Linked DNA regions of Homo sapiens: region 1 is linked to region 2. The links come from fine-mapping of genetic effects on plasma protein levels. A gene starts in region 2. The other region holds a variant in brackets. All regions are shown on one strand. Distances are between the middles of the regions. Region 1 has its middle 8.0 kb from the start of CLEC2D. Region 2 holds the start of KLRB1 (killer cell lectin like receptor B1).

What was found. PIP is the chance, under the fine-mapping model, that this variant and not a neighbour inherited with it causes the effect. The UK Biobank Pharma Proteomics Project read protein levels with antibody pairs (Olink). The fine-mapping took linkage between variants from a reference panel, not from the people measured, so its PIPs are less certain.
Region 1: its variant is fine-mapped to the plasma level of the KLRB1 protein (UK Biobank, PIP above 0.99).

Annotation. Positions count from the first base shown.
Region 1 is chr12:9,660,296-9,663,215 of GRCh38, forward strand. No RefSeq gene overlaps it. Among named protein-coding and RNA genes, the nearest start is that of CLEC2D, 8.0 kb to the right of the region's middle. The variant C/T (reference allele first, on the strand shown) is at 1,484.
Region 2 is chr12:9,606,096-9,609,015 of GRCh38, forward strand. It overlaps KLRB1 (killer cell lectin like receptor B1), which reads right to left and starts at 1,821. Exons shown (of 6, transcript NM_002258.3): 1 at 1,660-1,821. The coding sequence starts at 1,744.

The DNA.
Region 1 (2,920 bases), 54 kb after region 2:
ACCTAAATTTAAATAGCACAAAGCAGCCATTTGCTAACTAGATTTCATACAAATGCTCTGAGTTCCTGGAAAACCCACACTCCTTAACTTTGGGACTTTCAAGACTCACCTAAATCAATCAATTAAAGCTCACTTGTGTCAGCTAATCAGGGATCAGCTGTATTGACTAATGAAAACTAAGCGAGTTTCAAATTTTAACCATTTATTTGTGTAGAAGACTTGATTGGGAGCCTGGGTATGAATACTTGCTATAAAATCTGAGCATTCCCTTTGTTCTCTGGAGCAAACAATGTTAAGTTGTTAACTCTCTGTACCTTTCTCTAGAACTGGATGGAAACAACTCCATCTGAAATGCAGCCCTAATACCAGGGAACTCCTACAGTAAAGCGCTAAACAACTTTATTACTCTAACCAACGTTTATGTCCCTAATCAGCAAGAAGTAGTTAGAATGGTCATCATCCCTTTCCCTCAAGATTGAGGAATGGACATAAAAAGGAGGGGATTTGTAACTGCTCCAGACTGATCTGTTGTCAGAAAGGGGCTCTTGAACCAGACCATGAAAGAGGGTTCTTGGATCTCCTGCAGGAAGGAATTCAAGGAGAGTCACAGAGTGTAGAGAGAATAGACAGTTTATTGAAAGCTACTCAGTTACAGAGTAGGGCATCCTCCAAAAGCAGGAGGAGGAATGTGCTGTCTTTGTTTTAAACTCTTCTTTTATAGGGGTTTAATCTATGTAAAACCTAAGCTATGTCTACATGTGGGTAGGCTGTCAGTGTGACAAAATTTAGTATTTTGTTGATATAAAGAAACTTATCCTTGTCATCTTAGTGCATAAGTACATCAAAGTATGACTTTAGCTACCTTAAAAGCATGTATTGTTATGTGATATTGGGACATCTGGACATTCTGCTGTCGTAGGAGTTTGTCCTTGCAGCATTACTAAATCGCTTCCTTAGCTGTAAACATCTTATAATCGTAGGTCATAACTGTCAAGGAAGTGCCTTGCTAGTTTTTAGATGGAGTTGATTTTAAAATAGTGTCACTCTGGCTTTCCTATGCTCCTGCTTTCCTAACAAATCTGGTTCAACTTTTTTTTTTTTTATTCAACATAATCTTTTTTTTCCATGCTACCTCATTTACAGAGTGCTTCCTATAGATATGGTTGGTCTGTATGTTTCATTTTTCAGCTTTGATTCTTATTTTTTTGAATCACACATGCTTTATGGGGGCTTCCACTACCATGAGCCATATTTTCTGTATTACCAGCAAGATGTTTGGGTTTGTTTTTTGTTTTCTTTATATTTCAAATTTTATTTTAGATTTAGGAAGTACGTGTGCAGGTTTGTTAACATGGGTGTATTGCATGACGCTGATCTTACAATACCAATGATCCCATCACTCAGGTAGTGAGCATAATATCCAATAGGTAGTTTTTCAGAACTTGCCTTATCTTCCCTCTCTCCCTGCTCTCTTAATTCGAAG[C/T]CTATTTTTCCTATCTTTATGTCCACATGTTTCCAGCATTTAGCTCCCACTTATACGTGAGAGTATGTGGTATTTGTTTTTCTGTGTCTGCATTAATTTACTTAGGATGATGGCTTCCAGCTGCATCTTTTGTTGCAAAGGACATGACTTTGTTCTTTTTTATGACTGTGTAGTATTCCATGGTGTATATGTACCACATTTTCTTTATCCAGAACACTGTTGATAGGCATCTACATTGATTCCATGTCTTGGCTATTGTGAATAGTGCAGCAATAAACATGCATGGTTCAACTTTTATGGTAACAAAGCTGTGAGTTGTTCTTCAGTTGTCATGGACCCTCACTCAGGTCATGTAACCTGAGCATGGACAGGTGAAACAAGTGTGCAACCACAAGGGAAACCTAATCATTCAGACTGAGGTACAGGGACCGAATTAAGAGGTGGACACAGGATGGCAGGATCCAGGATCCAACTGGATAGAACTCAGGCATCACTTCATGGCAGGATCCAGTCAGATCTTGCCTCCCAGCATCACCTCATTGCAAGATCCAATCAGATTATTCCTCACTACCCTATGCTTATAAAACCTGACCCACCTCCCAGCTTGGCGAGGTACTACTTTGGGAGCTTTGTCCAGTGTTCTCTTTACTTTCTGTAAGAACAAAATCTCCTTGCTAAATCCACCTTGTCGGTGGTCATTGGGTTGATACCTGCCAAGTGACTGAACCCACCTGTTGTGTGGGTAACATTTAGAACATATTTTCCATTTCTTTATTTTCCTTGACTGTCTGCATTGGTGTCTGTGCACCAGATAAAACAGCTTCCTTTCCAGTCTTCACAGACAGGTCTCAGATAGGACAACACCTTTACCAATCAGTCCAGACAGAGGTTCTGGGTGCCACTTAAACCTTCCTGGTAGTTGAAACCACAATGTTTGTTCTTAATGGTCCTCAGGCATCTAGAGTATGCCAGGCCCTTCCAGTGCTCTCAGATACATGAGATAAAATCCAGTTCCTCAGGTAGCAGCCAGAAAAGCTGGGGTGCTAGTTATTTGGTCTGTCTCCTTTGCTTTTCAGAGAGAAGCTGGAAGCCAGGCTTTATCACTGCACTGAGCCAAAGTGGGGAGCAGGGGGAAGTGCCCACATGCTTATTAAAAACCGCTCTGAAAATATTTGAAGTAACAGGGCTATAACAATTATTATTTTAAAAGCAACTGCTGTTTTGGTTTGTGTAGCCCCAGAGGTTTAGCAGATGCTGGGCCCTGTCAGCTCACCAAAACAGGGAAATTAGAAACCAGTCTATCTGGTAGTATCTAGAGAAGTTGTGATACCAGATAGGTGGTCCAAACCCTTCACTCCTCAGGGATAGACTAAGAGATGGGAGTTCCTTCCCGATCATATGGCATTGTATTAGGGTTGGGGGTTATGATCACAGTGT
Region 2 (2,920 bases):
CTGAAACTTAATTGACGGCTCTAAGACTTTCTTCTTGACTTAAAACTTTGAGAATTCAATAGTTTAAAACTTAAACAGTCTTAAAACAGCACAAGTCAAATGCTTGGCATGACATGGAATGAATATCAGATTGGTAAACAATTGTAATATTATCAATGATAGTAAATTCAGTTAGATATCAGAAAATAATAATGTGTCATAATAATTTCATGCTGATTTTCTGCCTCAGTTTCTAGTTTCTTCCCATCCATCCACAGGCCATGCTATCCATCATGTGTTACCTCACATTGGTGTTCCCCGCTTCTTTCACTCAGAATGCTAACTCTTCAGAGACACAGGAAAGTGCCAGTTTCAACAAATGGTAAGTAGGTTCGTTACTGATATGCTCGAGTATTTTTGTGGCTTGTCTCTTTCTAAGCTGTGATACTTTTCAAACTAGAAACTATCAGGTAGTAATGATATTCAAATCTTTGATCTTGAATATGATTTTTTTTCCAGAAAGTGTTCCCCTCTCTTGAGAGAGTGAAGTATGTTACTCATTAAGCCTACACTTTATATATATATATATAAAATATATAAAATATATGTATAAAAAGTATATATATATATATAAAATATATAAAATATATGTATAAAAAGTATATATATATATATATATATATATATTTTTTTTTTTTTTTTGAGATAGTCTTGCTGTGTCACCCAGGCTGGAGTACAGTGGCACAATTACAGCTCACTGCAGCCTTGATCTCTTGGGCTCAAGCAATCCTCTCACCTCAGCCTCCCGAGTAGCTAGGACCACAGGCACGTGCCCCACACTTGGCTATTTTTTTGTATTGTTTGTAGAGATGAGGTTTTGCCACATTGCCCAGGCTGGCCTTAAACTCCTGGACTCAAGCAAATCACCTTAGCCTACCAAAGTGTTGGGATTACAGGCATGAGCCACTGCAACTGGCCTACACGTTGTATTCTGAAAGGAATATTATGGATGAAAATGCACTGGGACTTAATCATAGTATTGATATTTTGTAGAGGAATTTGGAATAACGTAGGTTGTTATTACAGCAAGTTTGCAATGTGTCTTAAATATTCCTTAGTTCATACATGTAAAATATTTTTCCTTCCTTCCTTCCATCCTTCCTTCCTTCCTCCTTCTCTTTTTCTTTCTTTCCTTTCCTTTCTCTCTCTTTCTTTTTCTTTCTCTCCTTTCTTTCTTTCTTCTTTTCTTTCTCTTTCTTTCCTTTCTTTCTTTCTTTCTTCCTTTCTTTCTTTCTTTCTTTCTTTCTTTCTTTCTTTCTTTCTTTCTTTCTTTTCTTTCTTTCTTTCTTTCTTCCTTCTTTCCATCCCTGTAGAGCAGGGGTAACCAATAGGCAGTGTGCCCAGGGTAGCCTAAAGTGTTCAGAGTCTTTTAACCAAGGCTCAGTAAGACAAGTGATGTTTGCTTTTCATGCTAACTTGATTGAAAAAAATAAATGTATGAGGTTTAAATTTTTTTTCCCAAAGTTGTGATTATCTACAGGCAAGCCATGCAACACCCGTTAAACATTAATATAAAACTACTGCTCATCTTTAAAGCAATGATTTAAAGCCATAAATGTAACAGGAAGATCTAATTCTGGAAGACATACAAATGCCGAAAGGAAAATTAAAGCCACTTACCCCGAGGAAGAGATGAAGGTGAAGAACTTTCTGGGCCTGAGTCTGTGGGTAAGTTTAACTCAGCATATATTGCTTGTTGGTCCATGGCAGACAGAGGAAGGTGGCATTAAACTTGTGTGTAAGAACAAACTCTCAATTCTGTGAGGCAAAATCAGCAAAAGGAAGCTTTCTGCCTGCAGTACTTTGTTGTCTCTCTTTTGTCCCCACCCACATACACTTTTTGTTGGTGGTTATCTCCATAAATTACTGAGACAATCCACTGACTGCATGTTCATTATACCTAGCTATGTAATATCTACTTTCCTTAATTAACTGGCCTGTTGTTTGAGAAAATTCTGGGAGGCTCATTTGTTCTTGTTTTTCTAACCATCCCTTTTGTGTTCCTCTCTCAGGGCCAGGACCAGAGTGAAGCAAATGAGGCATAGCCTGGGGTTCCAATTTAAGGGGCCCCCAACAAAACTCACTAATTAACAGAAATAATATTTAGCACAATTTTGTAAAAGTAAAAATTAATGCAAAAAAGTCCATAATGCTATTCAAAGGCTCTAAAATCTTCCTGAAATATCTGTGCTCCAAAGAAAGTTGTGAAATGTGAAAAATGGAAACATAAATGTGAGAAAGCCCCCTGAATAACACAACAGAAAAAGCAATGTGCTAAAGATCAGTAGCCTACTGTTAGCTTAGCTCTAAAGGCACTCTTGGATATGATAGCATTTTCACATAAGTAAAAGTATTTGGAAACTGCCAGAATTGTAGGAAGTGGAGTATATGGAATTTTTTATCTCTTTGAAAGACTTTCTTTTTTTTTCAAGGTGATTATAGTATGTGTCTACTTTTTTTTTTTTACCTTTTTTTATTATTATTATACTTTAAGTTCACAATGTACAGGTTTGTTACATATGTATACATGTGCCATGTTGGTGTGCTGCACCCGTTAACTTGTCATTTACATTAGGTATATCTCCTAATGCTATCCCTCCCCCCTCCCCCCACCCCACGACAGGCCCCGGTGTGTGGTGTTCCCCTCCCTGTGTCCAAATATTCTCATTGTTCAATTCCAACCTATGAGTGAGAACATGCGGTGTTTGGTTTTCTGTCCTTGCAATAGTTTGCTCAGAATGATGGTTTCCAGCTTCATCCATGTCCCTACAAAGGACATGAACTCATCCTTTTTTATGGCTGCATACTATTCCATGGTGCATATGTGCCATATATTCTTAATCCAGTCTATCATTGATAGACATTTGGGATGGTTCACGAG